2 separate regions of the Homo sapiens genome follow, and region 2 is linked to region 1. A link means that fine-mapping ties the variant in region 1 to the expression of a gene that starts in the linked region. Tissue or cell type: whole blood. Region 1 holds a variant in brackets; the other region holds the start of a gene. All regions are shown on one strand. Distances are between the middles of the regions.

What was found. PIP is the estimated chance that this variant, and not a neighbour inherited with it, causes the effect.
Region 2: it holds the start of CHD1L, and the variant in region 1 is fine-mapped to the expression of CHD1L in whole blood (TOPMed, PIP 0.92).

The regions. Positions count from the first base shown.
Region 1 is chr1:147,488,468-147,493,687 of GRCh38, reverse strand. All of the region lies in intron 3 of LINC00624 (long intergenic non-protein coding RNA 624), which reads left to right. Among named protein-coding and RNA genes, the nearest start is that of LINC00624, 27 kb to the left of the region's middle. The variant C/T (reference allele first, on the strand shown) is at 2,565.
Region 2 is chr1:147,240,038-147,245,257 of GRCh38, reverse strand. CHD1L (chromodomain helicase DNA binding protein 1 like) reads right to left here and starts at 2,574. Exons shown (of 23, transcript NM_004284.6): 1 at 2,428-2,574. The coding sequence starts at 2,554. RefSeq lists a silencer at 2,123-2,742.

The DNA.
Region 1 (5,220 bases):
TATTCAGAAGAGCAGCACAGATTGTGTTGCCCCCTTACTTAAATCCCTCTAGTGGTTTTGCCTTTGCTTACAGAACCAAATCAAATCCCTAATCTATTGGCACTCCTGCTCCAACCCTCCCACGCTCACCAGCCAGTCTTTCTCCACCCACCCCTCCTTCATCTCACATTGCTCTGGCCACCCCGGCCTTCCCGCCTTCCCTGAAGATACCAAAGTCTTTCTCTTCGTGGGGCCTGTGCTGTCATTTTTTTGCCTGAAATGCTCTTCCTTTAGATTTTAACACAGCTGTCTTCCTCATGATCAATATTGCCTCGAGTCCCAAATGTGACCTCCTCTGAGGGGCCATCCCTGCCCCCACTAACGGAAGCAGCGCCTGAGTCATAGCCCCATATTTTATGTATTTTTTATCCCTTACTCCTGCCTGATTTTTAAAAATTTGTTTAGGAGCTTAACAGCACTCTCCACACTAGAATATAACTTCCTTTTGAGCATAGAAGGTATTCTTCTTGCTCACCACTGATTCTCCAGAGCTTTGAATTATGGGTCTTCAAAAATATTTCATGATGAATTAACTGACAGCTGATGATCCCGGCCTGCTTCATTAACTCTTTACACAGGCTCGTCAGTATAGCACACAATTTTGTCATCCAGAAGAAAGAAGAAAGTTATATTTTGTTTGTTTGTTTGTTTGTTTGTTTTATGAGAGGGTCTCACTCTGTCTCCAAGGCTGTAGTGCAGTGGTGCGATCTTGGCTCACTGCAACCTCCACATCCCGGGTTCAAGGGAGTCTTGTGCCTCAGCCTCCCGGGTAGTTAGGATTACAGGTGCATGCCACCATGCTCAGCTAATTTTTGTATTTTTAGTAGAGATGGGGTTTCACCATGTTGGCCAGGCTGGTGTCGAACTCCTGACCTCAGGTGATCCACCTGCTTTGACCTCCCAAAGTGCTGGGATTATAGGTGTGAGCCACCGCACCCGGCCTAGCAGAAAGTTTTTTCAATTACACTATCTTAGTCCTATTCTCTAGTCTTAACTGAACATAGTTCTCAAGATTCAATTCTGGCTATCATAGTAGCATTTCTTCAAAACATGAAGAAATGTCTGCTCTGGGCTAGCAGAGATGGAAGGAATGAAGGAGTGTATGTATGTGTGATCAGTATGTATTTGTATGTGCTTGCGTGTGTATTGAGGGGCTGGGATTTCATTTTATAGTTGAGTGTGGTAAATGATTTTAAGCTGCCTTACCTAGAATTCAGAGTGTAACTTAGTGTAAATAAAGCACCAGGTGGCAGCAGGGGAATATTGCTACACATTTTTTTTTTTTTAAACACTTAAGGTATTTTCCCAGTGGATTAGCTGCTATACAAAATGGACAATTAGACACAGGCCTGCACAAAGAGCTTGCAATCTATAGATGGATCAGTTGTCATTATATAAAGCTCCATATCTTCATTATCAAAAGCAGCTATGCTGAATGCTCTTCTCTGAAAGATTGTAAGCAAGCTCTGCAGAACCTGGGCAGGCCAGGGTGAGCCTTGCTCTGTGGAGATTATAACAGAAAATAAAAAATAAAGGAAATGTAGATGGGCATACCAGCTCTGAACAAGTTAAGGAATGATTATGTATTGCAAATTATTTGTTAACTTGGCTATTTATAGTTTATAGTATAGTGTCTGTCTCTAGACTGAAAGTCCTTCGAAGGCAGGCACCAATCTTTTTCTTCTTTAAATCCGGAAACACTTAGCAGGGAGCCCATCACATGAAAGGGGCTTAATAAACGTTTGTTGAACAACTGAGAAAAAAGTTAAGAAATTAAAAAGTAAAAATGAGAAGAAAAAACTGTGAACACTACTATACAGAAAGGAATTCGGAGCATGCCTTGTATCAAGTATCTGAGTTGCATGCTCTTAGTCCCAGAGTGCAGTTTTATTTATCTTTCCTTCTTTTTTCTTGAAGAAGAGGCAAGGATCCTTCCATGCCTGACTTCAGTGGAATATTGACCTCTTAGAGATTTTCAGATTAGGAAATGCAGGTAAATGAAAGAGGTTACTATCCAGAGAAAACCATTAAGACATATTCCCATTTAGCTGAACCAGAGTTGCCCACTATTTTTTTTGTAGTTAAAGATCATCAGTGTGGACCTGGAGACCACGTTCTGTGTTTTGTAATCTTCAACGTCCTAGTGTGTTTATTATCATCCAAGAGTTGAAAGACAAAAAGCAAGCATGTTATTTCTTAGGAGTTGAGCTTCTCTTTAGATGAGGTGCCTTTCATTTCTTTTTCATGCCAGCCCACCACTTCCCAGTTCCACAGAAGCATGGTCCTAGAGGAATTTCTTCCTCCTTGGGCAGGAAGGGTGAAGGGTGAGGAGGACTAAGGGGGGGCCCCTAGAGGAAACAGGAGAGGCAAGCAGGGAGAAAGCACAAGGCTGGAGACAACTCTGGTACGGGGGACAGGGCACTGTGAAAAAGGAACTTGGGGTGTCTTGTGGCAGATCACACTCCCTACACCTGCAAGTGGAGGTTAGAGTTCAGATTAGATTAGCATTAGCTTAGATTTTATCC[C/T]GAACTATAGCTTAAATTCTAAGGAGAAAATCACAGTATATATCTTCTCCAGCCCCAAATCCAGAATCCTCTATCAGTCCAGGGAGTCTGAACTTGAATTCCCTTTAATGAGAGGAAAAGCCTTTCTTCTACAATAATAGATTAAAAAGCCTTACAGCTTCAAATGGAAGAAACACACTGGTGTGAGGAATGTAAAAATATACCTGACAGTTTTCTTTCCTGTGTGTTTTGGGCCGGTGGGTGGGTGGAGAACTGTAGAGGAGAAAAGGGAGTGCTGGAGACTTCGGCTGAGCTGTTTCTCTTCATCCCTGTGCAAAAAAACAGAGGCTGCCAATCCACACTCTCTGCAAAGATCATTATGGACATTTCAGCAGCTCCTCATCTCTATTTTCCCATTATTGGTTCCACTTTTATAATAATTTCTGAAAATAATATAAAAATTTTCTGGGTTATAGATAATTATCTTAAAAACTGAATATGGTCACCCAGTTTTAGTGCCTGAGTTTGCGTCTATTATTATATTTCTGCCAAGTGAAGTCTAAATAATATCCTAGAGTGTCCTGTGAATGAAGGTTTTGCACTAGGTCAAGAAAGTAAAAGCGCTGGGAGAACGACTATCACAACCACGTGACAGAAGAATAGAAATGTCAGACTTTAAAGAATCTGGCCGGGTGCGATGGCTCACGCTTGTAATCCCAGTACTTTGGGAGGCCAAGGCGGGTGGATCAAGAGGTCAGGAGTTTGAGACCACCCTGGCCAACACAGTGAAACCCCATCTCTAGTAAAAATACAAAAATTAGCTGGGTGTGGTGGCAGGCACCTGTAATCCCAGCTACACAAGAGGCTGAGGCAGGAGAATCGCTTGAACCTGGGAGGTGGAGGTTGCAGTGAGCCAAGATGGCTCCACTGCACTCCAGCCTGGGCAACAGAGACCCCGTCTCAAAAAAAAAAAAAAAAAAAGAATCTGTGCATATAGTGAGTACATTCATATGGTATCAATATTTTAAATGTTTTACTTGTATTCTTTGTTCATACCAACTTGATACAGTTCAACAGAAGAAAATAAATATACAATAATTTTTTTGTTCAAAAAGTTTTTTAAAATTATAGTATTTTATTTGGAAGTGAATCCTTAATTGATTGACCTATCCAAAAATAAATTTGTGGTTATGAGTTTCTTTTTAAAAAACTGAAATGATCAGCAATCATATTATTGATTCAAATGCAAGTGTATCATGTACAAAATAAAAAAGAACCGTTAATAATAATATGTTATGTCATTATCAATAAACTCTGCATTGGTGATTTTGTTTAAACAAAGCAATATTACATATCACATTAACTTAATGTGGTCGATTTGAAGTTCATTTGTTTTACTTATATTTATTTTATAAATTGATTTGGTTTTATAGTTATATAGTTGCTTATATAAGAACTATAAGCATAAAGATTGGCGTTAACACCTAGTTTTATGATTGTGCATATTTATGCAACTTTATAATACATGTAATATAAGCCAACATTTTATATGTCATGTGTTAGTTAAGTTTAAGAGACGTTTTTCTGAATGAGTGTTTCCCAAAGATTATTCTGTGGAATGCTAGTTCCAGGAAATGAGCAGCAACAACAACAAAATGTTTTGTTAACAAATACATTTAGGAAATGCACTACAGCTACCTTTTTGGGAATTGATAGTATATGTTAGCTATTTCAACATGAGAAAACTGCAATTTTGACTACAGTTTTTCAAAATTATTTGCTTGTGTTAAACCGTCTTTAAGTGAAACAATCGTTAGAATCTTACAGTGTTCTACAAAACGCAGTAAAGGAAAATTGTTCTAGACTAGAAAAAAGCAGATTATCCACTTTTCTCTGCAGAAAAAAGCAAGGTAACAAAGTCAGACACTTTAACAAGAATGTGGCTCCAGGGGGTGAAAGTATTGAAAAATAGACTTTTTTTTCCTTCTGCAAATGCAAATGATACTGATAAGGAAGGAAAGGTTGGAGGGTGTATTGAAAAGGTTGAGACCGGCTGCACAGAATGCTGTCTGCTCTATAGTCAAACATGAAGAGTGCCGTTTGTAGGAGAGATGGAACCATAGACAAGGATGATTTTTTCAGTGTGGCCCAATGGGTAAGTTTTGGTGAAAGTTACCACAGGGCAAATTTCACTATGAAAGAAGGAAGACCATTCCAGTTATTTGAGATGTCCAAAGATGAAATGACTGCTTTGGGACAGAATATGTGCCCTACCCTAAGCAGCTCAAACAAAGGCCGAATGAGGATGTAGATGAAATTCAGGTTATCAAGTAAGTGGTTGGACTCGATGATTTTTAACCTTTAGTTCTATGAGTCCACTTATTTGTGATCAAAACAGAGATATGTACACAAGATAACAATGTACTCTACAGGACAATAATTAACACTCATTAAGTGATATGTACCAGGCATGTTACCTGTACTAAGATGTTTAATCCTCACATCCTCCAACAACCCGACGGAGAAAGGCACTGATAGCCCCATTTTACAGATGAATAACTGCAGTGGAGAAGCACAATCATGCTTATTCCTCCCATTTTCAATTAATGACCACAAACCTCAAGTGGGCCTAACGCTGCCCGCCTATCATACTATATCTCTCTTCCATTTACTTTCT
Region 2 (5,220 bases), 250 kb after region 1:
CCAGTCACGTGCCTGGCTAAAGCCAAGTCACGTTTACAACCAAACTACAGTGGGGTCTGGGAAAGGTAGTCTTTAGCTTTTTAACCTCCAGATGTAGATTCTTTTGCCCTTCTGTCAGGGAGATGACAAGTAGTGAAAAAGCAAGCAAAACAGCAAGAAGTAATAGGTCTGCATATTCCAGAAACAAAAAGGTCCTAAGGTAACTTCATGATCCAAAGATGAATATCCAAATGTCCATCAATATTGGTAACCAAATAAACATTAAATTAAACAATACGATAGCATATTAACTTCTCAAATTAGAAAATACCAGTGTTGCTGAGAGTATAGAGAAATAAGCAAAAATTTTGCATACTCTTTATTCTAGAAATGGTACCTTTCAGGAATTAAACGTCCATACCTATAATAAATATTTGGTTACAAGGATATTTATGTTACTTACAATAGCAAAAAAAAGAACCTAAATACCAAGAAGAGGGACTGTCTAAACTATGGTACATCCATATACTGAAAAACTGTAACCATTAAGAATGATGTTGAAGAAGACTGAATGATAAGGAAAAAAAGTTATGATTTCCCAAAAAAATGTACATGAAACTCCATTTTTCACCTTCCCCCTCCACCAGAAAGTAAAAGAAATTATACAGGATAGAGAACATGTTAACAGTAAGGAGATTATGGAGATTAATATTTATTTTCTTTATGCATAGGCTATTTCCCTGAATGTTTTACTGAAAATACGTACTACTTCTGTAACCAAACGAAAAAAAAGTAGTAAGAATTTTTTTAACCAACTCATGAAGAATAGTTTCTCATAACACTAGTTTATTCTGGTAAACAGAAATAGAAATTACAAGTTATAATATTCAGTAGCCATTCCTTTGACTCTGCTTTTCTATTTTCCTTCTCCACTACCAATTTATCCAAGTTGCCACATTTGCCTACTTAATTCTGAATTTACTCACTCCATTCCATCCACTCAAACTTGCAACCTCTTGTCTCCTCATTTTCACTAAAACACTTGCCCATATGTACGTTTCTCCTGGCATATTATCCACAGCTAAGTATCAACTGGCACACTTTTCTGAGCCCTCTCTCACACAAGTTCTTAAAGAACCATTCCCAACACTTGCAAGGAAATAGGCAAACCCACAAACATAAACTTTCGTTAAGATAAAGTCAAACATAAAAAGACCAGTCTACAAGCTCATACTTAAAACTGGATACATACTCCTTACAGCCACACATTCTTACAGACTCAGGGAATCAAGGAGAGAGGTCTTTCTCTTTCATGTCAGCGTCCTCTCCATTCAACTTCATCTTTCAGTCTTCTAAGCTGAACACAGAATTGCACCTTTTGTTTCATTCCTAGAATGACAAACCTTACTCTTTCGTGGTACTGAGCACTTAAATAAATTAGTTTATACTTTTAAATGCACTCTCACTAGTCTAAAACTCTAGGTAGGAAGGGTCCCTATTTGTTTTGCTCATCTTTGTAGCCAATGCCTAAGAATACGCTCCCAGTAGCATTCAATAAGTAATGAATAAACGACTGTATTATTACTGATGCATGATTCTGTCAATACAGTCAAAGCACACACTACGTTCCCAACTTATAAGTAAGGAAAACGAGGCTGGGGCGGTTCAGCGGCGAGTCAGCGCAGACCCAGGAGGAGAGCGGGGTCTCGGAGCTGCAGGAAGTACGGTCAGCCATGCAGCGGCAGGGCTGGGGGGCATGCAAGGTTCGCGCTTTGCAGACTCTCCGTAAGGGCTAGTGTCAATAAATCGAGTTACGTGCGGTGGTGAGCGGACAAGCTAAGTTGGCATATAGTACGTGGTTCAGTCAGTATTTATGAATGACTCAAGACACAAAAATAGCTTCATAAACAGTGCTTTGCTTGAGTTTGTCCGCTCACTACCGCACGTAACTCGATCCGGAGAATTAATCCGTGGCGAATTCTCCAATAACTGCGCGCGCACAGTAAACGGAGAAGCTGAAGCTGGGAGATGAGTTGATCGTTTTACAGAAGCAACCAATAAACTCCCCAGGCCGGGACCCAAACCCACCGGAACAGCAACTGGAAACCTACATCCTTGGTGCACCAGGCCGTCCAACTCTTCAGCGGAGGCCTGCAGGTGGCGCTGATCTCACCACGTTTCCCCTCCACAGGCCAGGGGCCAGGCCTGGCTACCGGGCCCGCGACCTCATTCATCTGGCGTCCGCCGGCCCCGCGCGCCGCGCAGGCGGGGGCCGTGGCCACCAAGCCCGGGCGCAGTTTCTCTCCGCCCACGGCAGGAGCGAAGGAAGGCCCTGGCGCGAGCGGGTAAACTGCCCACCGGGCGGCCCACCCGCTGCGCCCCCGGCCCGCAAGAGGCAGTCCCAATAGGTTGGCCCGCCTGGCCGAAGTCCGCCCGGAGCCCGCTCACCTGTCAGCCCCCACTGCCGTAAGTCCTGCTCCTGCACCCGCGCCGCCTCGGCTCGGCCCTCAGTATGAAGCCGCAGTAAGAAGCCAGGGGCTTGGCCCCCGCGGCTAGTAGCGCCCGCGCGCTCCATCGGGCCGGTAGAGGCCCCGCCCCGCGCGGCCAAGCGCGCACCTCCCTCCCAACTTCCCAACGCGCGGGGGCGCGCGACTGCGCGCTGGGGCCCACCTACGAGCGAGGCGCCGCCAGAGGGCGCGTCCTGCCAAGATATCCGGAGCGGAGCTGGTGCAGTCACCCTTCCGGACAGGCAGTTCTTGCAGTGCGGAGCGTGGAAGGGCTGCCCAGTTCTCACCAGTCGTGCTTCTGAAGCGCTAGGCGTCTGATCACGCACAGGACGTCTGATTGCCTGAACTGCCCGTCAAGGAGGTGGCATGTGTTCATCATTCATTTATTATTTAATCAACATCGACTATCATGTGTCAGACACTCCGCTGGGCCCTGGGGGTTCTAGAAGTAAGACTTGTTCCGTGCCCTCCAGTGATTCACGATAAGATCAAACTGTTCTTGTTCGGTTTACCTAGTGATAAATTGATTTAGTCCCTGAAATCCCTTTCTTACTGCCTGTGACCTGTAGGCCAAAATTGGGAACCTCTGAATAGTAGTAAATTAAAATCACCAAAGACGTCATTGTGGCAGTGGGTATCTCAAGTGCATTATGGGGAGCAGATTGAGGCAATGTGTTCAGTTAGGGGTCACCGTGACTCAGCATCAGCTTTGAGTGGATTTATGATGTAGTATACCACTAATATAAATATGATAATAACAAAATAGCTGCATTTATTGATGAAGTTCTGGGTGGTGTCCTAAGGGCTTTAAGTATATTTTCTTATTTAACCTTCACAATAACCAATAATTAGGTGTTATAATTGTCCCCACATTGTAAATGAAGATATTGGGACTTGTAATGGTAATTGGCAGTACTGGAACAGGAACGATATTATTCTCTGGCTAATGTCATTAGAATAGTATTCTCATTTAGGTTAATCTTGGTGCTTCCTTCTTCAGTAAACTCATGTTAAATTTGTACCCTCCATTCTCATCTTCCTCTAAAATAAAAGGGAGAAATTTGTTCTGAGCTAGAAAAGGGATGACTTCAGATTGGTTTATTCATAAAAACTCAAGCAAAGCACTGTTTTATGAAGCTATTTTTGTGTCTTGAGTCATTCATAAATACTGACTTTCATGCGCGTCCGTGTGAAGAGACCACCAAACAGGCTTTGTGTGAGCAATAAAGCTGTTTATTTCACCTGGGTGCAGGTGGGCTGAGTCCGAAAAGAGTCAGCGAAGGGAGATAGGGGTGGGGTCGTTTTATAAGATTTGGGTAGGTAAAGGAAAATTACAGTCAAAGGGGGTTTGTTCTGTGGCGGGCAGGAGTGAGAGGTCACAAGGTGCTCGGTAGGGGAGCTTTTTGAGCCAGGATGAACCAGGAAAAGGACTTTCACAAGGTAATGTCATTACTTAAGGCAAAGACGGGCCATTTAAACTTCTTTTGTGGTGGAATGTCATCAGTTAAGGCAGGAACCAGCCATCTGGATGTGTACGTGCAGGTCACAGGGGATATGATGGCTTAGCTTGGGCTCAGAGGCCTGACACTGACTGAATTACATACTATGTGCCAAGCACTCTATGGTACTGAAGATAGAGGCCACTTATCTCCTGGATCTTACATTTTAAAAGGAGGAGACAAGCAATAAATAAAAATCAGGTAGTGAAGGGGTGGCCTGCCCCTCCACACTTGTGGGTATTTCTCGTCGGGTGGAATGAGAGACTTAAGAAAAAAAAGAGACACAGAGACAAAGTATAGAGAAAGAAAAGTGGGCCCAGGGAACCGGCGCTCAGCATACAGAGGACCTGCGCTGGCACCAGCCTCAGTTCCCTTAGTATTTATTGATCATTATCGGGCATTTCTCAGAGAGTGGGATGTGGCAGGACAATAGGGTAATAGTGGAGAGACGGTCAGCATGAAAACATGTGAACAAATGTCTCTGCATCATAAACAAGGTAAAGAAAAAAGTCCTGTGCTTTTGATGTGCATACACATAAACATCTCAATGCCTTAAAGAGCAGTATTGCTGCCCACATGTCCCACCTCCAGGCCTAAGGTGGTTTTCTCCTATCTCAGTCAATGGAATATACAATCGGGTTTTACACCGAGACATTCCATTGCCCAGGGATGAGCAGGAGACAGATGCCTTCCTCTTATCTCAACTGCAAAGAGGCCTTCCTTTCTCTTTTACTAATCCTCCTCAGCACAGACCCTTTATGGGTGTCAGGCTGGGGGACGGTCAGGTCTTTCCCTTCCCACAAGGCCATATTTCAGGCTATCACATGGGGAGAAACCTTGGACAATAACTGGCTTTCCTAGGCAGAGGTCCCTGCGGCCTTCCGCAGTGTATTGTGTCTCTGGGTACTTGAGATTAGGGAGTGGACTCTTAACAAGCATGCTGCCTTCAAGCATTTGTTTAACAAAGCACATCCTGCACAGCCCTGAATCCATTTAACCTTGAGTGGACACAGCCCATGTTTCAGGGAGCACAGGGTTGGGGGTAGGGTTACAGATTAACAGCATCTCAAGGCAGAAGAATTTTTCTTAGAACAGACCAAAATGGAGTCTCTTATTTCTACTTCTTTCTACACAGACACAGTAGCAGTCTGAGCTCTCTTTCTTTTCCCCACAAGGTAGGATTAATGCTAAGACAAAAGTAAAACACAATCGCATAATGGGGCAATAGTAATTTT